Linked DNA regions of Homo sapiens. The protein of the gene in region 1 purifies or fractionates together with the protein of each later gene. This does not show direct contact. Each region holds a gene or a part of one and is shown on either strand. Other genes may lie near its edges. The genes, in order: MPG and CAPZA1.

Evidence for each region.
Region 2: the proteins of MPG (region 1) and CAPZA1 purify together in Homo sapiens (affinity purification with mass spectrometry; 2 studies listed by BioGRID and IntAct, with this or other methods). This does not show direct contact.

Annotation. Positions count from the first base shown.
Region 1 is NC_000016.10:71,091-83,340, forward strand, and holds the start of MPG (DNA-3-methyladenine glycosylase), read left to right. Parts: upstream 1-7,134; 5' UTR 7,135-7,219; coding exon 7,220-7,243; intron 7,244-8,048; exon of another isoform or gene 8,049-8,202; coding exon of another isoform or gene 8,203-8,241; intron 8,242-8,334; coding exon 8,335-8,610; intron 8,611-11,961; coding exon 11,962-12,166; intron 12,167-12,250. Other genes in the region: RHBDF1 (inactive rhomboid protein 1), read right to left, coding at 436-573. UniProt on the Homo sapiens protein: Hydrolysis of the deoxyribose N-glycosidic bond to excise 3-methyladenine, and 7-methylguanine from the damaged DNA polymer formed by alkylation lesions.
Region 2 is NC_000001.11:112,655,168-112,667,279, forward strand, and holds part of CAPZA1 (F-actin-capping protein subunit alpha-1), read left to right. Parts: intron 1-3,854; coding exon 3,855-3,934; intron 3,935-4,533; coding exon 4,534-4,612; intron 4,613-6,038; coding exon of another isoform or gene 6,039-6,068; exon of another isoform or gene 6,069-6,085; intron 6,086-11,906; coding exon 11,907-11,978; intron 11,979-12,112. UniProt on the Homo sapiens protein: F-actin-capping proteins bind in a Ca(2+)-independent manner to the fast growing ends of actin filaments (barbed end) thereby blocking the exchange of subunits at these ends.

The DNA.
Region 1 (12,250 bases):
CTGAAAGGCAGGGGAGACCTGGACGACTCCCCCTAAACCAAGAGCGCACCCTAGAAAGTCAGCTCCCCAAGGTGGGGACCGGCCAGCTCATGAGGGGTGCTGGTTGAGGGGCCTGCTTGTGCAACGGAGGCCACCCAGCCAGTGAAAGCTACTTGGAAGGGCTGGGAAAGGGTCTGAGGCCCCTTCAATCTGGCACCACCAGACTCCCATGCACTCCATTTGCCCCTGCCCCATTCTCAGGAAAAGGGGCCCGGCTTGCCCAGAATGACCCCTGGTGGCAGGGGGCTCCGCCTCAGGGACCCCTTGAGCCCCAGCCAGCTGCTTGGTCCCCAGCTTCTGCCCACCCTTGGGGTCGGGGCTAGGAGGTTGGGGTTAGCTCCACAGGGGTGAGGAGAACCGAGCCTGGGACTGCCCAGGCATCTAGCTGGGTCAAACCTGAAAAGCCAGTTTCATCCTTGAATCTTCTCCCGGTCTCCAACAGGAAGTCCCGTTGGCGGGTGGGAGTTCCCAGGATAGGAGAAGGGCCTCCAGACCTAGGCCCCACCCACCGGGACAGACACACACATTCACCATCTCAAGCGGCACACACAGAAGAAACTCTGGTCAGGACCACCTCGGTCGGAAGCAGGCCCTGGGGGGCCAGGGAAGATCCCCTGCCCATTCCCCGCCCAGCCCCACAAACATGCCCCCAGCATGACAGACAACCAGGCCCTCTGCCAATGCCCTGAGCATCTGGGGTCTGGCTGTCACCCCAGCCGGGAGAAGGCCTGTCCCCGTTGGCCTCTGCGCACAGAGTGAGAGTCTGTCTTCGGGAGTCGCTCCCAGCCCACCCTGGAGCTTCGAAGTGTACAGATGGGGGAGTCAGTGTCGTGGGGCAGAAGGCGGAGTCAGTCCCCCACCCCCAGCTCCACGGCTCCTGCTATTCCCATCGGTGAGGGCAGCCGGGACAGGGACCATCCCGCCCTGGGCTGGAGTTTCAGCTCGGAGACACCACCCGCCGGTCGTGGCCGGGAAGGAAAATGCAGCGGGGGGAGTTCAGAGGAACCTGGGGCACCCCCGGACTCTAGACTCCCGCTCCTGGGACCCTCAGCTGTTGGGCGGGGGCTGGAGCCGAGCTGTCCCGCCCGGCCAGGCCGCTGGGGCTGCTAATCCGGCCACGGGCTATTTTTGCGGCGCGCCGGGCTAGGAATCCGGGGCTGGGCCGCCTCCGCGGGCGACTCGGGAAACTCCAGGAAGAAAAGCCCGGCCGCCCCGGGGGGGCCTCGCCGCGACCCCTCCCCGGCCCCGGCCCCGGCCCCGACACGGCCCCGGCCGCTCTGAGCAGCTCCGGCCCCGGGTGCTGAGGACTCGCCCCGCCCTCCGGACGCAGCCCCGGAACCCGCCCGCCCCCGGAGCCCTGCGCTCCCGGCCGCGCTCACTCACTGCCGCCGCCGGGGGCTCTGGGGGGTCCTGAGGGCGCCGGGGAGGAGGCTGCCGCCGCTGGCCGGGAGGGCCCGCGCCGAGTCCCCGCCCGCCCGCCGGTCCGGCCCGCCCGGGAATGCCCTGGAGCGAGGGGCGTGCGCCCGGGGGCGGGCCCGGCCGGAGCGGGGCGGTCGCGCTGACTCAGAGCTCAGGAATGCGCGCCGCCCGCCTGCCCGGCCCAAGTCACCTCCTCCCGGAAGGCCGCCGGGCTCCCTTCTCCCCAGGGTCCGCCTGCGGGGACACCTGGGGCTGGGGTCTCCAGCGCCTCGGCCCGACGGAGGACCTGGTGGGAGCGGACCGCAGTGTCAGCGCTGGGCGGCTCCGCCTCTCCCTGGCTCCAGATTGAGGCTTGAGCTGTCCTGCCCTGATTTGTGCTGAGAAGAGGGTGAGGAGGGAGAGCAGGCACGGGGTAAAGGGCGGAGGATGGGTGTGTATCCCTGGCTCCCCTAAACCCGACCTCCTCCAGAGGCCCACGCTGACAAGTCCTGTATCCCACACTCACCCAATCCCACTAAGCACTCACATTCCCTCACACACATTCATGTGCACCGATCACTCACAATCATACACACACGTCCCCACATCCTTCCACTTCATGCGTTCATTCGCCTGCACATGCACGTGCTCACATGCACCCACCTACTCATGTACATCTTTCATGGGTACATACACGTGCACACACACACGTGTACACACCGATGCACACACTCAGTTCAGGACCACAGTCATTACCCCTCCCCCTGCCCTGTGCCCCTACCCCCAGAAGCCCCGCTCCACCAGCAGGCACTCAGGCCAGGCTGCACCGGCCCCACCCGAAGCCACTCAGCAGAGGCAGCGCAGTGTCTGGTGTCCACTCTGGGCTCTTCTCACTGTCTCAGAGCTCAGCGGCCACCCCGGGGTGGGCTCATATCCCTGCACAATCTGGGCTGGACTCAAAATGGCACTCTGCTTTCCGCTGGGGCTGCTGGTGAGAGTTTCCCAGCATTTCTCTCCTGACACTGGGTGGGCTGACCCTCCCAGGGTGGGGGACAGGGGTGCCAACAGCAGAGTACGGGCAGGGCTGTCCAGGAGCTCTGAGTGGTGGGTGGCCAAGGCTTCCTCTGGATAGAGGGTGCAGGGATCCCTTCGTCCCATGGGTCCCTAAGGACCCCTCTACAGGGTGCCCCCCCATGCCTCGGACAAATGTGTCTTCAGGCCCTGTGCTGGTCACAAGGTGCTGCTGCTTCAGTGCCATCCTCTGGGTCTGGGTGGCACCAGCCCTCTCCAAACTGAGCTGTTGCACTTGAGGGCCCGACGCAGACAATGGCCTGCTCCTTGGCTAGACAGAAAAGGGGAGAATTTGAACTAAAGGTGCTGGTACACTTACCGGTAGATCCCAGAGCCTGGGCAAGATTCCCCTGCCCATATCCTTGTCCATGCCACGGGATAGGGCGGTGCCTGCACATAATGGGTGCTCTCTGAACACAAGCAATATCAACACAATTCTCATGTAGAAGGAGACAATGGAAGCTTTGGAGGGGGTGGAGGGTAACTCCACCAGGGGATGACTGCCAGTGCATCACGGACACCGGGTGAGAGGGAGCCTGCCCCAGTGCCAACACTCAGTGCTCCGATAGCCTGCACGTGCCACCCCTCCCATGCCAGGCTCACAGCCAGAGACAGGACAGTCTCCATGCTTAGCATTATTGACCTGCCAGGGATAAGCAAGCCCTATCGGGCCTGGATGCCCAGACTAGGCTGGCAGGGCCAGAAGTGGTGTCCTCTCTGGAAAGCTGGGGACTGGGCTTGCCTCCAAAGCATGCCACAGCTGGGCATCTGGTGTCAGCAGGTCTCCTCCTGCAGTGGACTCTGTCAGACCCCACCTAGACCCGCTCCAAGACCCAGACACTCATCGCCAGCTGCCAGGAGCACCAGTCACAGCTGGCTCAGAGCTGAAACCCCCCGCACCCAGGAGTCACCTTCAGTGGGGAGCATGCCCCAGTCTGCCTCTGCAGGCAAATCCCCAGCTCAGAGCCTGTGTCCAGGAATCCCCAGGCTCTCAGCCCACCCTGGCCTCCTGAGTGAGGTCATCAGAAGGATGATCAGAGGGGGGTCGATACACGTGTGCTCAGTGTCAGGCCTCTGAGCCCAAGCCTGCACGTATACATCCAGATGAAGCAAGTGAAGAATCACAAAAGAAGTGAAAATGGCCGGTTCCTGCCTTAACTGATGACATTACCTTGTGAAATTCCTTCTCCTGGCTCAGAAGCTCCCCCACTGAGGCACCTTGTGACCCCCACTCCTCCCCGCCACAGAACAACCCCCTTTGACTGTAATTTTCCACTGCCCGCCCAAACCCTATAAAACGGTCCCACCCCATCTCCCTTCCCTGACTCTCTTTTCTTCGGACTCAGCCCGCCTGCACCCAGGTGAAATAAACAGCCTTGTTGCTCACACAAAGCCTGCTTGGTGGTCTCTTCACACGGACGCGCACGAAACTCAGGATTGTACCCAGTCCACATAGACAAGTGTGTGCACATATGTGTGCTCTGCCTCCTGCCTGCCCTACTACTCTCTGTCCTGGTGGAGGAGCCCCCTATACGGAAACCCAGCTCCCGGCCCCTCTCTTCCCGCGTCATGCACCCTGGAGAAATGGAAATCAGCTGCAGTTGCCCAGCACTCCCGGGGCTGGTGGGCAGGCGTCTGAGAATGGGTTAGGGTTAGGGTCTAGACCAAACCCAGGGTTTGTGGCCCTCACACCAGGACACGAGGGAATGGGAGCCCTGACCAGTAAGAGGAGTGTTCCCAACAGCTACCCCAGAATCCTCTGCTACCCCAGAATCCTCAGCTCAGCTTCTAGGCCACAAGTAATCACCCAAGGGGTCAGACCCTGGGCTTTGGGGAGTCCCTGGAAGGATCAGAAGAAACCGCCCGGGGAGCAGGGCTCCAGGGATGGGCCCATGACCAGCTCCTGGCTATTTGGGGAAGAGGCAGAAGGGGGCCAGGCCAGCCAGTGGCCTGAAGTCATAGGCTATTTCTGAGGCAGCTGCCCCCTCCCCATATCCCAGGGTTTGGCAAGGGGTTCCCATAAGCACCTGGGCCCAGGGCCTGGCAGCACAGCCCCAGGCAGGGAGGATGTAGCTCACACACACCCAACCTCGGCCTGCCCAGTGGCTGCCTTCTCTGCCCAAGGAAGCTTTGGCCCTCCAGGGCTCATCAGACACAGATGGCCGCAGAGACCAGTCAAGAGGCCAGCAGCCACCCTGCTGGGAAGCTGCCAGCTCAAAGCTGTGTAGAGGAGTCCATGGGCTCTGACCTGACACCCACCTCAACAGCTGTCAGCACCCCCCTCCATCAGAGAGAAGACGGAGCCAGTGTGCTGGGCACCCTGGGGTCATAAGGCTGATACTAGAACCCTGGCCCCTGTAGCCAATACAGCCACATCTCTCAAAGACTTGTTTATAAAGGCTCCAGCGACTGATGGCCACACCTCCTACAGCTGGAGGCAGCTCCAGCCCCTCCACAGCCTGTGGCCTATTGTGGAGGTCGGGGGTCAGGGCTGCTCACCCCAGCACCAATACTAGCCTTCACTCCTTTCAAAGCCTCAAGGGTGTTCTCATCTCCATCTTCCACTGATATCCTTGCCTCCTCCAACAAGCCTGTTCCAGCCCAGCAGTGGGACAAACTGGGGACAGAGGAAGCCCCAGGCCCCCTCCTCTCACCTGGCACCACTTTCTCTTGTCCTGGACCAGCCCGCCAGCCCACTCTGCAGGCCACAGTTGGAACTCTCATCCCACCGCTTCCAGCCTGTGGTGGGAGCATGAGACCACAAACCAGGAAGTGGGGGGGGGGAGTGCCCAGAGATTGCGCAACCCCCAGCACTCAGTCCAGAACATCTGGAGAAGTTGGTTGCTGGCGCCCCGGTGCCGGCCTCTCCACCTCCTGGGGCAGGGGCCAATCTGCTCTCCAAGTGATTCTCTTTCCTCATAAGAAAGGTGGGGATAAAAACACCCCTCTGGGAGCCTCTGGACTCCCCGTGAGTTCTGCAAGGACCATGTATCACTTGTAACATCAGAATAAATATAAGTACAAAGTAACACCCATCCTCTCCCTGCCCATCAAGAGGACAAAGGCTCAACTGGGGCCTCAGTTTCCCTACTAGACTGAGGGGGAGCACTCGGGGGGATGGGGGGCTGTTCCCACAGGAAGGAGAGACTCATTGTTTGGGAGGCATGGCTGCAGATAAGCAGGGAGGGTGTGGAATCACATCCAGGGCTGCTTTATAAACACGGATTGATGACACATTATGCCCCCACCCCGGGAAGCGGCACACAGTGCTACAAACAGCTGGTGGCTTCCAGCCGGCTGATGGCCCCTCCCTCCCCAGGAAGTCCTGGCTGGGGCCCATGGGGGTGGGACGGCTGGTCAGAGGAGGAGAGGCAGTTGGAGACCAGGTCCTGCCCTGTTAGCCTTTCTGTAGGACCAGGTGTCACACTCATCTGAGGGCTCCAGACACATGGCCTGTGCGTCTGTCCTGCCCAGCGTCTCCCACCTGACGCGGCCAGGTGCCCAGTTGCTCTTCAAGGCCTTTTCAGGTGCTCCTTTCCAGGACCAGGGTCACAGAAGTCAAAGCTCAGGAAAAGCCCCTCGAGGGTTTTTGTGCGGCAGAGGTGGGTTGTGGGGTGGGATTGTGCCTGCCACAGTGGAGGGGCCCTGCAGACCCAGATAAACCTTCAAGTGGCCAGAAGCGGGGGATGGCTCTGCTGGGTGCTGGGGCTGCCATGGGCCGTGGGAGCCAGCAGTGTGCCCAGCTCCCTCAGGGCCCGTCCCCTAGGCCCTTCCGTCCACTGGGCCAAGCACCGTCCCTGCCCCTCCCTAGGGGCATGGATCTGACTTGAGAGGTTGTGAGAGCTTACAGGCGCTGGGCCGTCGGGGAGGCCTCAGAAGCGTAGGACGGCTGCGCACTGCCGGGCCGTGTTCAGCCCTGGTCTGGCCTCGGCCTCTAGAGGAGGCTGCCTGCGCTCCAGCAGGCCCAACCCAGAACGTGGGCGAGCTCCCTTCAGCATCCCTGGGCGGAAAGAGGGATGGGGGCTCTGCTGCAGAGGCAGAATCCGCGCCGCTCCCTCCTTCCTTCCCCCGACCAGCCTGTGACAACCCCGGCCAGGGGCGGGGGCCTCCGCACAAGCCTGGCGTCCACTTCCTGGATAAGGACTCCCCGGCCCACTCCGGACCAGGGCTGGGGCGGCCTCCCAGGCGCTCACTCCGCTGGCACCCCACCGGAAAACACGTCTGCGGCCCGCCCCCTCCCCCAAAGCACGACCACTCCGCCCGGGCCCCTCGAGGATCCACTCAGGTTCACGACGGGCCCGTCCTCTCGGTGGTCTGACCACCGGCTGGTGGAGTGGGCTCTGGGGCCGCCAGGCGACCAGGGCGCAGGCGGGGGCGGACAGCTCATTGGGAGGGGCGCCGGGGCACAGTGCGGGGCTCGCCCCACCCCCAGGTGCCCCTTCCCCGCTCTCGCCTCGCAGGCACCGCATCGGGCCCGGGAATCGGTCCGGACCTGGCGGTGGGCGCTGGGAAGAGGATCCACCTCCACGTGGCCCGCCCCGCCCCGGGGGCGCAGCCAGTTCCCGGCGCTCACTGCCCCCCTTCTCCCGGCTTCCGTCCCCTTCTGCGCAGGCGCCGCTCCGCCCCGGTCCTAGGGGTGCTTCCGTGGTCGGCGGCTGCTGGGCTCCGCGCCGGGGTCCGAGTCCCACGAAGCCCCGGCCCGAGCCGCCGGATGCCCGCGCGCAGCGGGGCCCAGGTGAGCGCGCGCCTCGGCCGCCCCGCGGAACAGACGCGCCCACCCCCAGGCGCAGCAGCGAGCGCGGCCGCGGGAGCGGGAGTGCCGGGGACGGGCGTAGCGCCCACCGCCCCGAGGGTTCGGGGCAGAGCCAGAGCATAGGCCAAGGGCCAAGCTCGGGCCGAGAGCAGTGGCCGCAGCGCCCGGGGGCTGAACCCACGGCGCGCTGGCAGCGCGGGCCGAGCTGCGGAGACGGTCACGTCAGCGTCCGTTCCAGGCCGACTGGCAGTCTCCGTTCTACATTAACGTCAGCACTCCCGTTAAAAATAATGCATCTCTCCCATGCCAGGAGGACTTAGGTGCTGCTAAAGACCAGCCCTCCGGGTGCTGCCAGGCCGGCGCTCACCCGCCACCTTCATCTTCCCTTCTCCTTTGCCCCAGGACAGCCGAGGATGTGTGGTTAGGTTCCCCCTACCCATGGGGAGGCCAGAGGTGGGAGGCTGGCGGCCTGCTCGGTCTCAGCAGACCCTCCTAGTCCCTCAGGAGACCTTGCCTTTGCCCCACTTGCTCGTTATCCAGCCTGGGCCATGAAGCAGAGGACAGTTAGGGACCCTGAGCACGCGGTGGTCACCCCGGTGCTCACCCCTCCCTGTGTGTCCGACCTTGGCCCTGCTAAGATCCTGTGTTTTGAATTCTGGCAAGGGTTGGATGAAAGGGCAGGGCTCCAGAAACCAGCTCAGACGTTTGCTTGGGACCTGCATGATGAGTGGGAATCGGAGGGCACCAGCCCTGCTGTCCCAGGCTCAGGCCCCCATCTGCTCCCCAGGTCATGCAGCCTGGGCCCCCATGCCGTGCAGCTCGCACATATGTGGGGCAGAGCAGCCACCCTGCCCCCAGCAGCAGCCGTCCATCGTCAGACGTGATCATTTCCTGAGGCCTCGAGTGTGTCAGGGTGTTTGTGCCTCATAACAACCCACAGGATGGTCACCCCCGCTTTGCAGATGAAGAAACCAAAGCAGGTGGTCAGATCCAGTCCTTGCACTTCCTGAGCCTGACCTTACCACACAGCTGTCTCCTATTCGGATGCTTATTTATTTTTTTTCCCATTACAGTTTTGCCGACGGATGGGGCAAAAGAAGCAGCGACCAGCTAGAGCAGGGCAGCCACACAGCTCGTCCGACGCAGCCCAGGCACCTGCAGAGCAGCCACACAGCTCGTCCGATGCAGCCCAGGCACCTTGCCCCAGGGAGCGCTGCTTGGGACCGCCCACCACTCCGGGCCCATACCGCAGCATCTATTTCTCAAGCCCAAAGGGCCACCTTACCCGACTGGGGTTGGAGTTCTTCGACCAGCCGGCAGTCCCCCTGGCCCGGGCATTTCTGGGACAGGTAATGTGAACATAGCAGCGAGGGCCCTCCTGAAGTGCCTGTCACTGCAGTTGTCCCTGAACCCCTGTCCGCTGCCTGCTGGATTGGCCCTCAGTTAGTCCTCCTTGTCCTCATGCATTTAGCGGCTTTGCTCACACTGGTCCCTGCTTAGCTTCATCTCAGTTGCCTGAGGTCATCTGGGAAGAATGTAGAGATTGTCAGTGCTGCTTGCCCAGGGTGGAGCAGGGGTGCCACTGTCTGCCCCCGGCTCTGGGCATCTAGGGCAGGAGCACTTGCACCGTTAGCCTTCCTCACCGGCAATCCACCTCAGTTTTTCCACACGTGGGAACTGTGGCTGTGGCCAGTGTCGGGCTGCCCCTTCCCGCTGTAGTGGCTCACAGTGCAGTGCTGGCTTCCCAGGGCCCCTGCAGCTTAATGTAGGTCAAGGATCTGGGCTCTGCCAATCAGACTTGGAGTAAGAAGCAGGGACTGCCCAGGTCCCATCCTGGTGGGGCCTACGGTGCAGCCTGTCCCCACGAGCAGATGCTCACACAGCCGTGGCATCTTGGCTGGATCTGTTGGGAGCGAGGTGGTGGCGGTGGTCCTCGATGCCAAAGCCCCAGGCCTGCCTTTCTGGTTCTCCAGAGGCTCCAAGGCCTTCCCTTTGTCCTTTAATGAGCCTACTTTTAGGTTATAATCACCAAGAAGAACCAGAAGAGAAATACCAGTGCCAGGAGTTGGGTGCTAAAGGAGCAGACCCTAGAATGTGGGCTCGACCTCATGGAGAACAGAGAACATTCTGTCCCCATGCGGATCCTTCTAAAAGCACCTTAAGTAATGGGCATTTGTGGCCAGGTGTGGTGGCTCATGCCGGTAATCCCAGCACTTTGGGAGGCGGAGGTGGGTGGATCACGAGGTCAGGAGTTTGAGACCAGCCTGACCAACATGGTGAAACCCCATCTCTACTAAAAATACAAAAATTAGCTGGGTGTGATGACGGGCGCCTCTAATCTCAGCTACTTGGGAGGCTGAGGCAGGAGAATCACTTGAACCCGGGAGGCAGAGGTTGCAGAGAGCTGAGATCACGCCATTGCACTCCGGCCTGGGCGACAGGGCGAGACTCCGTCTCAAAAATAAAAAAAAAATACAATGGGCATTTGTGATACAACAAAACAGCACGTGTGGCAGGTGCGTCGTAGGAACAGGGCAAGGGCGCAGCATGGCATCAGGGACCACAATACGTTTGTCTCTATTCAGCATCCTTGTCAGGCCACAGTCATGCCCACTTGAGCCCATTGGTGGACAAGATGATGTCCAGCAGAGAAGAGGGTGTCTCACCCTGTGTCCCTTGGATCAGGGACAGCCCTCTGCCCTCTCCATAACCTCCTAGTGGATGCCCTTGCAGACCCCTCAGCCAGGCTTGGGTCATGCACTCATCCCTAAAAGGGTCACTGCAGTGAGTTGCCATGAAATCCCAGGCCACTCTCTGGGCTGAGGAGGGTGTGGTCTCCCCCAGGAGGCTCTGCCAACAAGGAAGAGGGGTGTGTGTTGGCCATGGGGGTGGGGAGGGGTGAGAGGCCCCAGTATCTGCCACTGGTGGAAATGGTATCAGTGAAATCCTGATCAGAAATTTGGGATGGAAAAGGAAACAATGAGAAAAGGGCTGTGGGAACCTCCTCTCCAGAGTGGTAGTTGGGCCCCCCCAGTGTGCCCCCATGGAGGCACAGGAGTGTGCAGAGTGAAGCCCCTGGAGGGGCATTCCCTCTAAGCTCCAGGGAAGATGGAACAGGGCCACCCTTTCTCCCCTGGACATGGCCTGGCCAAGCCTGGCCTGTTCACTTCTGTCCTCATGGCTCTGGATGCCTAAGGATTTCTGGGCTTCCCGCCCAGGCACTGACCCCTTCTTCCCACCACCCTATCTCCAGGAAGGCCTCCTGAATGCTCCCCACACTGACCCCTTCTTCCCACCACCCTATCTCCGGGAAGGCCTCCTGAATGCTCCCCACACTGACCCCTTCTTCCCACCACCCTATCTCCGGGAAGGCCTCCTGAATGCTCCCCACACTGACCCCTTCTTCCCACCACCCTACCTCCGGGAAGCCCTCCTGAATGCTCCCGGCGCTGACCCCTTCTTCCCACCACCCTATCTCCGGGAAGGCCTCCTGAATGCTCCCGGCGCTGACCCCTTCTTCCCACCACCCTACCTCCGGGAAGGCCTCCTGAATGCTCCCCGCGCTGACCCCTTCTTCCCACCACCCTACCTCCAGGAAGCCCTCCTGAATGCTCCCCGCGCTGACCCCTTCTTCCCACCACCCTATCTCCGGGAAGCCCTCCTGAATGCTCCCCACGCTGGCCCCTTCTTCCCACCACCCTACCTCCGGGAAGGCCTCCTGAATGCTCCCCACGCTGGCCCCTTCTTCCCACCACCCTACCTCCGGGAAGCCCTCCTGAATGCTCCCCACGCTGGCCCCTTCTTCCCACCACCCTATCTCCGGGAAGCCCTCCTGAATGCTCCCCGCGCTGACCCCTTCTTCCCACCACCCTATCTCCGGGAAGCCCTCCTGAATGCTCCCCCGGCGAGCATCTAAGCTCCAGTGCCCCTCCTCCCCAGCCCGTGATACTGACCATGGCCTTTGGCACCACAGGGCTTCGTGGGCTGAGGTGAAGGTAGCCTGGCTGTCCAGCTGACCTATCTGGCCTAAAAACGAGAGGTGCAGGGGATGTGGTTGGTCCCCAGTGCTCTGCTGTTAACTCTGGGGCTCCGAGCAGTGACACAACTGTTGGCCGTTACCAGGACCATGGTCCAGGCTGGGGCACCGTGGGGCAGCTGGGCCTACTGCTCAGAAAGCCGGAGGGTGGGAGCTGAGTATGAGGGTCCCTTGTGGCCACCTCAGCAGCCCAGGTTTAGGGGACTTCACGGGCTCTGGGATTGCCCAGGTAGCTGGTGTGGGGACATCCTTGGGGTCCTGTGCCTTCCGTGATGCCTGGCCTCGTGCTAAATGCTGATGGTTTTCTCAAGGGCACTTGGGAAAGGAGGAATCTGGGGAATGGAGGGTCCTGCTGAGAGGACTTGACCTGCAAGGTGAATCCATGACTGCCGGTTCCCAGCCCAGCCTGGCTGTGGCCTGAGGTATCTTCGGCCTGCGGTCTGGTTGTCTAGCAGGGCTGGAGGAGACAACTGGTGCCCTCAATAGCCACATTCAGCCTCAGCAGGAGCAAGAGAAGAGGCAGGATGGAGACGGGGCAAGGTCCCTGGCTAGACCTGGGCGGCTGACACACCCTGAGCTGGGGAGATGAGGTCCAGGCTGGGCACTGTTAGGGTGAGTGGACCCCCATCCCTTCCCGCCCTGAGCAGAAACTGACTGCCCACAGGTCCTAGTCCGGCGACTTCCTAATGGCACAGAACTCCGAGGCCGCATCGTGGAGACCGAGGCATACCTGGGGCCAGAGGATGAAGCCGCCCACTCAAGGGGTGGCCGGCAGACCCCCCGCAACCGAGGCATGTTCATGAAGCCGGGGACCCTGTACGTGTACATCATTTACGGCATGTACTTCTGCATGAACATCTCCAGCCAGGGTGAGCAGTGCTGGGGCACGGGGGGTTGGAGGGCCGGCAGAGCCCTGTCCGCTAGCAGCCAGGGGACCACTAGGAGGACTGAGG
Region 2 (12,112 bases), on another chromosome or scaffold:
AGTAATCAAAACTATTAGAACTAAACAATTGGCTGGACATGGTGGCTCATGCCTGTAATCCCAGCACTTTGGGAGGCCAAGGTGGGCAGATCACTTGAGGCCAGGAGTTCGAGACCAGCCTGGCCAACATGGTGAAACCTTTACTTAAAAAATACAAAAAGTAGCTGGATGTGGTGGTGCACACCTGTAGTTTCAGCTACTCAGGAGGCTGAGGCACAAGAATCACTTGAACCAGGGAGGTGGAGGTTGCAGTGAGCTGAGACCACACCACTGCATTCCAGCCTGGGCAACAGAGTGAGACACTGTCTCAAAAAAACAAAAAACAAAAAAAACCAAACAATTTTTTTTTAATCAGGAGTGATTTTCTTTTTGTTGTTGTTTTTGCTGTTGTTGTTGTTGTTCTTTTGTTTTTTGAGACTAAGTCTTACTCTGTCACCCAGGCTAGAATGCAGGGGCACCGTGTCAGCTCAATGTCACCTCCATCTCCTGGGTTCAAGCAATTCTCCTGCCTCAGCTTCCTGAGTAGCTGGGATTACGGGTGCCCACCACCACACCTGGCTAATTTTTATATTTTTAGTAGAGACAGAGCTTCACCATGTTGGCCAGGCTGGTCTCGAACTCCTAACATCAGGTGATCCAGCTGCCTCGGACTCCCAAAGTGCTGGGATTACAGGCGTGAGCTGCTGCACCTGGCCTAATTTTCTTTTACTCCCTCTTGACTGTAAAAATAGATAAATTTGGCTTTATTATTTTTCCTTTATAAAATTATGGCATATTAAGAAAAATATTGATTAGAATATTTTTTATTTTTAAATTGACAAAAATATGATATGTACAACATGATATTTTGAAATATGTATACATTGTGGAATGGCTATATTGAGCTAATAACATGGATTTCTATACATATTTATCATTTTTTTGTTGTGGGAAAATCAGCAATTTTCACTAGAATATTTTAAATATACAATGATGATGAATTACATGGCAGTCTAGAATACAGTTAAGAGCACCTACTTTGAAGCCTTACTAACTGGTTTGATTCCTGGCCCTGCCAATTAATTAGTTGTGTGACCTTAGGTAAATTACTTAACATCTCTGTGCCTCAATTCTTTGACTGTAAAATGGAAATAATTGTTTTTATCTCATAGAGTTGTTGTGAAGATTTAATGAATTAGTAATATATGTAATATATGCCTGGAACAGTGCCTGGCACAAAGTAAGCTCTACATAAATGTTAGATGAATGTTAGGCTAGGTGTCATTATGTTTGATTTTTTTTTTTTTTTTTTTTTTTTTTAATGAGAATACCCATTATGGTGGACTGGACAAGTATAGAATTCCTGTTGGGAAGCCAGTATTGCAAAGGGGAGACATGATAGACTCCCATTTAGAAATTGACTGTTTAATCCTAAATATACTTTGAATTTATTGTTTGTTACCTGTTCAAAGTTTGTCACTACCCATTCTTAATTTGGAGAGCTCCAGCACCAAATAACCCTACTGTGTCCTTAGCTATCAAATGACCTACAGAAAGTCATGGAATTGTTGTGATGGTGTCTGCTGTATATAAGTATCCTATGTCTTATGTCTTCAGCTGACCTGCTTAGTAGTCCGTAATTTCATCTCCTTATTCCCTATCACATTTTCTACATAGTATGTTCCAAACATTTTTCATTGTCCTCTGACAGGCATCTAATCCCCCATGTTTTGTAAGGATTGAAACTGACAGAAATTTTTTTTTTTTTTTTTTGAGACAGAGTCTCACTCTGTCTTCCAAGCTGGAGTGCAATGGTGTGGTCTCGGCTCACTGCAACCTCCCCTTCCTGGGTTCAAGCGATTCTCCTGCCTCAGCCTCCTGAGTAGCTGGAATTACAGGCGCCTGCCACCACACCTGGCTAATTTTTGTATTTTTAGTAGAGACGGGGTTTCACTGTGTTGGCCAGGCTGGTCTTGAACTCCTGACCTTGTAATCCGTTCGCCTCAGCTTCCCAAGTAGCTAGGACCACAGGTGCACACCACCATACCTATCTAATTTTTCTCTGTGTGTGTTGTGTGTGTGTAGGGACTACAAGGCATGAGCCACCAGGCCCGGCCTATTTCTCCTTCTTTGTCTGCCCTTTCCACCTTGCCCTTTCTCCCTCTTCTCCACTTTTTCCCTTCTCTCATCTCTCTCTGCATCACCACCACGTCAGTACATATTCTTTGCCTGCTAATGCCATTTCCTCTATCTACTTCTGAACCCTTTAATTTTTTACTTTAGTCTCCATTCTACAGAAACTGCTCTGAGTTTACTAATGGTTCCTGAGTTACCTGGTCCAGTGTCCTTTTCCTTGTCCATGACTTCCGAATGGCATTTCACACTGAAGCCAATCAACCACTTCTAGAAATTATCTTTTACTTAGGCTGCTGTCAGCAACCCCTAATTCTTTTTTTTTTTTAGAGATGGAGTTTTGCTCTTTTTGCCCAGGCTGGCGTACAGTGGCATGATCTCAGCTCACTGCAACCTCCGCCTCTCAGGTTCAAGCGATTTTCCTGCCTCAGCCTCTCTAGTAGTTGGGATTACAGGTGCCCACCACCACACCTGGCTAATTTTTGTATTTTTAGTAGAGATGGGGTTTCACCATGTTGGCCGGGCTGGTCTTGAACTCCTGACCTCAGGTAATCCCCCTGCCACAGCCTCTCAAAGTGCTGGGGTTACAGGCTTGAGCCATTGCACCCAGCCCCCTAATTATTCTTACTCTATACTAAGTTCTTTTTTTCCCCTACCTTTGTAAATGTAGGCATTCCCCCAAAGTTCATAATTCATTTAATGCAGGTAAAGTAACACAGACTTCGGTGTCACAAAAACAGTGGGTTTGGATTCTACCTTTACCACTTCCTGAGTGACCTTAGGCAAGAAGCTTTGTGAACTTCAACTTCTTATCTGTAGATAACACTGTATTTCATCAGATTTATTAGAGGAAAAAGAAAATACATGTAAGAACATATTTTGTGGACTATAAAGCGCTATTTTTTTTTTCTTACTTTCCCTTGGTGATTGCATTTCCATTCACCTCTCCCACACTAAAGAAGAGTTAGTGTTTCTAACTACTAACTAGACATCTCCATCTGTAATTTCCAGTTTGTTAATGACACCACCATCTTTTTAGTCACTCTTGAGTTCCTTCTTTCCTTTGCCCATCATTTGCAATATACTGCTAGACTTTGATTGTACTTCTACATTCTGTGTGCAACTCTTCCTTTCCATTCCCATTAATATAACTCTGACTTGTTGCCTAGATTAATCCTGTGGCCTCCTAACCAAGCTTCAGCTTTTCTTCGTTTTATCTTGAATACCAGTATTGATTATTCTCCCACAATATTAGTTCTAGTCATGTTTTGCTGTCTCTCCATTGCCTATAGAATAAAATCTTAAACTTCTTACTTTACATCTACTATTACATGACCTAAATCTACCATCCTGTTTTGTCTTTCATTAGTCCACTTCACACACACCCTTTAAACCTGACAGTCTTGTTCACTGAACAAGTCCTTAGTTTCCTGTCTTGCCTTTATTTTCAGTCTCTGCTTATCAGAATCTCATCTGTCTTGTATGACCCAGCCTAAATGGCACCCGCCTTGTACCCCAAACCAAGAGCAGTATTTCCCTCTGTTTTCATTGTATCACTGTCTCTGGTAGAACCTAACATGTTCTGCTTTGTTTTCATATCCCATGTGCACTATTGTGTTCTAAGCTCATTTTATGTGATTCTTTGTCTCCCCCAAGGATTTAACACTCTGCTTTTGTACAATGCATGTTGTTTAAATTAAAAGTGTTTGGAGTCTTTAACTATTTTTTTTTCCCAACAATAGGTTTATGCTAAAACTATCGATGGGCAACAGACTATTATTGCATGTATTGAAAGCCACCAGTTTCAGCCTAAAAACTTCTGGTAAGAAGTAGATATTCTCTTCTATTTACATCTGAAAGAAACCAGCAGTTGAGACTTGGTTTTTAATCCAACTAGCTTGGAATAATTATTTAACTTACAGACTTCAGTTTTCCATCTATAAATGAGGGATTTAGATTCCTTACAGTTCTAAGGTTTTATAATTATATTTTCCTTTAAAAGTTACTCTTATTTTGAGTGAGAACAAGTGATTAGTAAAGTGCCCTGTTGAAAATCTGAGTTTTACTTGGCTTAGGGTTACTGCTACTTGAGTTAATTGTGTAACTCAGCAGCCTATTCATCTGATTTTGGAAGAGCCTCCCATGAGCAGAATAGGCATGGTTTTCCATTTCAAGGGAAAAAAGGAAAAATGAAAGACAAAATAACTTAGAAAAGGCTTATGGTCAGGCCACTTAGATCCAGACTTACATTTGAGTAGACAGAGCTTTGGGTTTGCCAAACTGGAAATGACAGTTTCTCTCTCTCTCTTTTTTTTTTTCTTTTTTTGCACCCCTCTTTCCCAACTTCTGTACCTCAGTGGCAAATCACCTCTTTCTTGTGCTTATTGCTAATTCTGCAATGTTGTGTGTGTGTTTTAATAGGAATGGTCGTTGGAGATCAGAGTGGAAGTTCACCATCACACCACCTACAGCCCAGGTGGTTGGCGTGCTTAAGATTCAGGTGAGATTCCAACATGTTTATAGACTTAAAACTTCACATCTTTAAAACATGTGCAGGTTGCTTTGGTATTAAATAAGGACCAAGTATGTGTAGATGCAAAGGGAGACTGATGGCAGTGAATAGAAATAGAAGCCTCCTTCTTGGGGTGGTAAACAGAGAGAGCTATTCTGAGTTGATAAAGGATAGCATGTAGAGTGTATGGCAACATGGTTATTGTTATTTTTCCTTCAATGGTAACATAAGATATAACTAGGAATTATCAAACAGCAGTTTTAGGAAAGATTTAAAATTAATAATAATAATAATTATTATTTTTTGGGACAGAGTTTCACTCCATCACCCAGACTGGAGTGCAGTGACGTGATCTCAGCTAACTGCAACCTCCACCTCCCAGCCCAGGCTGGGTTAATTCCTAAAAATTATAACTAGAGAGAATGGCAGGTGTTTTGGAATATAAATAGCCAAGCAGAAGTAGATTGATTGATTGATTGATTGATTGACTGATTGATTGATTTTTGAGATGGAGTTTTGCTCTTATTGCCCAGGCTGGAGGTGCAATGGCATGATCTCGGCTCTTCGCAATCTCTGGCTCCTGGGTTCAGGTGATTCTCCTGCCTCGGCCTCCCGAGTAGCTGGGATTACAGGCATGCGCCATCACGCCTAGCTAATTTTCTATTTTTAGTACAGGCGGGGTTTCTCCATGTTGGTTAGGCTGGTCTCGATCTCCTGACCTCAGGTGATCCACCCGCCTCGGCCTCCCAAAATGCTGGGATTACAGGCGTGAGCCACTGCACCTGGCCCAGAAGTAGATTTTTAATGCTGATGTCAGGGTAGACAGGCAGCTGAATAAGATAGCTGTTAACTCATTTGATGCCTGTCTGGATTGAAGTTTAATATCCTAGCAGAGGTTTGACTTTCTAAACTCAGGGTGATTTAATATTTAAGCCTCACTAACTGTAAGGTCAGAATAGGTACAGGTAACCGAGAAGATCAGTACCTAATCGTACCTGTATTATATTATGTGAAGCTGTGCTTTAACAACAATTACCAAGAGTTGTCTTTTTTTTTTTTTTTTTTTTTTTTTGAGAAGGAGGAGAAGGAGGAGTCTCGCTCTGTCGCCCAGCCTGGAGTGCAGTGGTGCAATCTTGGCTCACTGCAACCTCTGCCTCCTGAGTTCAAGCAATTCTCTTGCCTCAGCCTCCCAAGTAGCTGGGATTACAGGCACACACCACCACGCCCAGCTAATTTTTGTATTTTTAGTAGAGGTGGGATTTCACTATGTTGGCCAGGCTGGTCTTGAACTCCTGACCTCAGGTGAGCCACTGTGCCCAGCCAAGAGTTGTCTTTTTTAATGCTCTAATTTAATCAAGTGCATAGGTAATAAATTCTGTAAAAGTAAATCTGCTCTTTTTATATATACCTATAGCTTCCTGCAACAAGTAGCTCCTGGCCATAGGAGCATGCCCAACTCAGGTGAGACAGGCTGGTGTTGAGTTCACAGCTCTAGGAGGAGCCCTCAGTGATATGTAAGAGTTGGTAGATAAATATGGCAGCTTCCTCAAGTAGGACAACTTTCAAGCACATTCTGTTTAGTCTTCCGGAGCCCAATACCCACAGCTGTAACCTGCTCATAAACGTACCTCTAAGGCTTCCTTCCCTTCTGTGTCCCACTTCTTCTGTCCCCTACTGTAGCTTTGTGAGATTCGCTCCTGAATAAACTACTTTTTCTCTAATCTTTGTCTTGGGGTCTCCTTCTGGGAAGGTGCAACCTAAGACAGCATACTGTTCTGTTTCTGTTAACAAAATATCTTAGTAGCCTAGCGCTCTAGATCTCTTGTAACTGTGGCATTAGCATTAACTTCCTAGAACCATGGTATCAGCATTGTAGAAGCTTATTGTAAATTTTGTGTAAATAAATTTTACTTTGTTTCTAGATGGAAACAGCCATTTGTATTTTAGCTCTGCCAGTGCAAACCTATAAAATAAGAGCACACATCACAAAGGGTGATAATTTATGGTAAGATTCAAAATACAGCCCAGTGTACAGACCCACATTTAAACCTTTTTAAGCACAGATTGAGCACACTTTTGGGGAAAGCTTATTTCATTTACATATCTTTTAAATTTTGGAGTGAGAATTATTTGGAAAAGTCGTTAAGATATTTAGCCTTTCAGGCTAGTCTATAGGCAAAAACATCGTTCTGAGAAGGCAACAATTTCTGAGGATTTATGTTGATGACAATCATGTTGAAATTTGTGTTAGTTAATTGAACCATTTTCATATTAGCAGATGAGACCTAGAAAAGGTCTTAGAACACATAAGTTTTGAGCTTAATTTCTTTCTTGAAACGGTGTATCTCAACTCTGTCACCTAGGCTGGAGTGCAGTGGTGCTTTCATAGCTCACTGCAACCTCAAACTCCTCAACTAAATGATCCTCCCACCTCATCCTCCCAAGCACCTAGTGCTACAAGCACATACCACTGTACCTGGCCAACTTTTTTTATTTTTTTGTAGAGTCGGGGTCTCACTATATTGCCCAGGCTGGGTTAATTTCTAAAAATTATAATAACATTAGTGTATTAGGTAATGAAATTAATATTTTTTAGAATTTTTCTTTTTTTTTTTTTTTTTTTTTGAGACAGAGTCTCGCTCTGTTGCCCAGGATGGAGTGCAGTGGCAGGATCTCGGCTCACTGCAAGCTCCACCTCCCGGGTTCATGCCATTCTCCTGCCTCAGCCTCCTGAGTAGCTGGTACCACAGGCGCCCGCCACCATACCTGGCTAATTTTTTGTATTTTTAGTAGAGACAGGGTTTCACTGTGTTAGCCAGGCTGGTCTCGAACTCCTGACCTTGTGATCCGCCTCCCTCAGCTTCCCAAAATGCTGGGATTACAGGCGTGAGCCACTGCGCCTGGCCCTAGAATTTTTCATTGAGATCAAAAACAGTGAGGCTTATTGACCTTACCCTATATTCCTTTCCATGTCCTAATTAAAAAACATAACAGAAGTTCAAACTAATTGTATAGTCTTTATTCTCGAACAAAAAGAATGTGCTCTGCATACCTCCTCTCTTTAGACAAGTTCTGAGAAATACAGAAGTTCTTGTTTCTTCTATGGCCAGATCTGTTGTTGTTTTTTTAAATATCTCCCATCCTGTTTGTAATAATTCCCCCCTGCCCCCTTTTTGTTTTGTTTTGTTTTTTGAGATGGAGTCTTGCTCTGTCGCCAGGCTGGAGTGCAGTGACACGACCTTGGCTCATTGCAACGTCCGCCTCCTGGGTTCAAGCGATTCTCCTGCCTCAGTCTCCCAAGTAGCTGGGCGTACAGGCGCATGCCACCACGCCCAGCTAATTTTTTGTATTTTTAGCAGACACCGGGTTTCACTGTGTTAGCCAGGATGATCTTGATCTCCTGACCTCGTGATGCGCCTACCTTGGCCTCCCAAAGTGCTGGGATTACAGGCGTGAGCCACTGCACCCGGCTCATTCCCCTTTTGAATGTTCTTTTCAGTCCCTGAACCTCTAGTTTTTTTAATGAAAAAACAAACAAAACTGATATTTGATTGTGACCTACTTGTATTTTAAATATTCTTATCTATTGGGATTTTAACCTTTATATGTCATCATCATTTAGCCCAGTCTTTTTTGCCCACATCTTTGCTGTTCTGATTTTACATGTAAGTATTAGTGGTTCTTATTATCACCCTTCTTTTCCATTGGATTCTCATCTTGTCTCCAGTGGATTCCAGTCTCTCTCTGTCACCCAGGCTGGAGTGCAGTGGTGCAATCTCAGTTCACTGCAGCCTCTGCCTCCTGGCTTCAAGTGATTCTCCTGTCTCAGCCTCCCAAGTAGCTGGGATTACAGGCACCTGCCACCATGCCTGCCTAATTTTTTTTGTATTTTTAGTAGAGACAGGGTTTCACCATGTTGGTCAGGCTGGTCTCGAACTCCTGACCTCAAGTGATCTGCCCACCTCGGCCTCCCAAAGTGCTGGGATTAAATGTGTGAGCCACCATGCCTGTTCTCAGTAGATTCTTATATTGTCTTTTCTTCTTTAACCTCTTAGAAAGCCAAAAGGTAAAATTTCAGGGTTTAGAGAGGGTATGGAAAGTCTAGCTTCTCATGCCCATCTGGATAGAGCCAGCTGTTTGTCCTCATTCAAGAAGATACTTGCCGGGCACGGTGGCTCACGCCTGTAATCCCAGCACTTTGGGAAGCCAAAGCAGGGGGATCATGAGGTCAAGAGATCGAGACCAGCCTGGGCAACACAGTGAAACCCCATCTCTGTTAAAAATACAAAAATTAGCTGGCCATGGTGGCACGCACCTGTAGTCCCAGCTACGTGGGAGGCTGAGGCAGGAGAATTGCTTGAACCCAGGAGGCAGAGGTTGCAGTGAGCCGACATCAGCCACTGTGCTCCAGCTTGGGCGACAGAGCGTGACACTGTCTCAAAAAAAAAAAAAAAAAAAGATACTTATTTTTGTCCTTTAAACAAGGATAGGTAGGGGGTTCTTGTTATCCAGGAAAGTCTTTTTGTTGCAAATAGCTTTCTGCCTAGATGAAGCTTGACTGTTAGTTATGCCCTTCTAATGATATCCACAAAGAGTAAGCCCCTGCTGAGACACTATTTCTCCCCAGATCAAGGAATTTCTAACTTTTTGACAAAACATAGCATTGGGAGGTATTACATATGTTGGATAGCTCTGGAATTTGACCTAATTCAAATCCTAGCTCCTCCTCTTACTAGGTGTGTGAACATGGATAAGTTATTGTTTAATAACTGCCTCAAGGCAAACTTCAGTTTCCTCAGCTGTAAAATAGGGTTAGTCGTAGTCCTCATCTCATAAGAGTTTTTGTAAAGATTAAATGTGGTGGCCTAGCGCAGTGGCTCATGACTGTAATCCCAGTACTTTTGGGAGACCGAGGTGGGTGGATCACAAGGTCAGGAGTTCGAGACCAGCCTGGCCAACATGGTGAAACCTCGTCTCTACTAAAAATACAAAAGTTAGCCGGGCGTGGTTGCGGGTGCCTGTAATCCCAGCTACTTGGGAGTCTGAGGCAGGAGAATCACTTAAAGCGGGGAATCGGAGGTTGCAGTGAGCCGAGATCGTGCCATTGCACTCCAGCCTGGGCGACAAGAACAAGACTCTGTCTCAAAAAAAAGGATTAAATGAGGGAATATAAGTAATAGTGAAGTGTTTGCACAGTGTCTAACACATAGTAAAGGCTTAATAAATAATAGCTCCTACAGCTAAGATTACTGAGTAAGTGAGATGAAGTAAGTGAAGATTACTGTTCTTCTCTTTTCCTTTTCTGCTTTATCCCTCAAAACATTCTGTTTTGTTCACATATCTCCTGGTAGCATAGACTAGATGTCTTTGTTTGGGGTTTTTTTGTGTTTTTTTTTTTTTTTTGAGACAGAGTCTTACTCTGTCACCCAGGCTGGAATGCAGTGGCATGATCTTGGCTCACTGCAACCTCCGCCTCCTGGGTTCAAGCAATTCTCCTGCCTCAGCCTCCCAAGTAGCTGGGATTACAGATGCCTGCCACTACACCTGGCTAATTTTTTTTGTATTTTTAGTAGAGATGGGGTTTCGCCGTGTTGGCCAGGCTGGTTTCGAACTCCTGACCTCAAGTGATCCGCCCGCCTTGGCCTCCCAAAGTGCTAGGATTACAGGCATAAACCACCGCGCCCGGCCTTGTTTCAGCTATTATAACACAATACCTTAGACTGGTATACCTTAGCAGAAATACCTTAGCAGAAATTTATTCCTCATACTTCTGGAGACTAAGAAGTCCAAGATCAAGGTGCTGTTAGATTCAGTGACTGGTGAGTTCTGTTTCTCATAGGTGACACCTTCTGCATTCTCACGTGACAGAAGGGGTGAACACTGTCCTCATGAGGTAGAAGAGTGGCAAGAGAGCTTGATTGAGCCTCTTTTAGAACGGCACTAATCCCTTGAAGGCTTCATCCTCATGACCTAATCACCTCCCAAAGGCCCCTCCTCTTAATATTATCCCATTGCATATTGGTCCAACATAAGAATTTTGGGAAGGTACCAACATTAAAATCATAGCACTAGATAAATGGCATTACCTGGACTATTGTTCTGGCATTATGTCTCCAATAGCAGCTCCTTCGTTTTATTTTCTTCATAGCACAAGTATAATCTTTCTAAAACATTCCTTTTCCCGTGTGTCACCTATAATAGGATAACATCTGCATTCTTTTTTTTCCCTAAGATGGGGATCTTGCTATATTGCCCAGGCTGGTCTTAAACTTCTGGCCTCAAGTGATCCTCCCGTCTTAGCCTCCTGAGTAGTCTGAATTCTTAACATGGTTTATAAGGTGCTTTGTTCTTCACAGTCTGTGTTTCCACTTCATAGCAATGTCTCCTGCCACACTCCTTTTTTACACATATTCATATGCAGTGAGTTCTTTGTTCTTCTCCAAATTAAACCAGTTATACTCCATTCTGTTATACTTTTTTATCTCCTTGGTGTAGATGTCATTCTCTACCTGTCTACTTAGGTGACAACTACTGTTTTCAAGATCCTATTCAAATGCACAAAAGGATACCCTCATCCTATTGTGTATGACCAATTAGTAGCCTTGTCAAGGTGACTAAACCTATCTTAAGTTGCCAAAACTTAACCTAAAATGTCATTGACTTGTTAGTCTCTTCTCCTTTTTGCTAATTGTTTGCATAATTGTAGCACTTCACTTTACCTTACATATTCAGAACTACTTTTATCTTACTTTTTAAAAATATCTGATTTACCAATAAAATATTTGTTTTTCTGTCCTGTCTTTAACCCTCAATGTGACTTTTCCTGTACCTGGTCAGTTCTGCTTACCAACATTGATGATAATGTATATGGAGAAATGTGCCAAATATTAGGTATGAGGATCCATTAAAATTCCTTGGTTTTCACAGAGAAAAACTAATGTTTAATAACTTTAATTATTTTAATATTGTTAAGAGTGGGATCTCATTTACCTTTGTATTCACAATGCCTAGCACAGTGCTTAGAATGTGAAAAGCATGTAATAAATGTTTCTTGAACTTAATAATCAGTTTTCCTTGCTAAGGAAAAAGCGTTCTTAAACTTAAGTGTTCTGTGGATTAATTAACCACCATTGTGAATTACCACTGCTTATATTAATTATTTGTTCAGAGTTGGTAAAATGGCTCATCAACTTAAAGATAGCTTAAAGCATGGATTTGTGTCCTAAATAACAGGTTTCTCTATGAACTTCCCCTAAAAAGGCTCAAACATTGTCTCACACAGGTTCACTATTATGAAGATGGCAATGTTCAGTTGGTTAGTCATAAAGATGTACAGGATTCACTAACTGTTTCGGTGAGTATGGAATATTTAGTGTCTGTCTTACTCATGTCTCGTTTTTCTTTAAAAAATTAGTTTTGATCCTGAGTGCTGATTCTGCCAGTAGAAATTCAGTTTGCTTTTAATGTTTTGATTTTGGCCACTTCTGT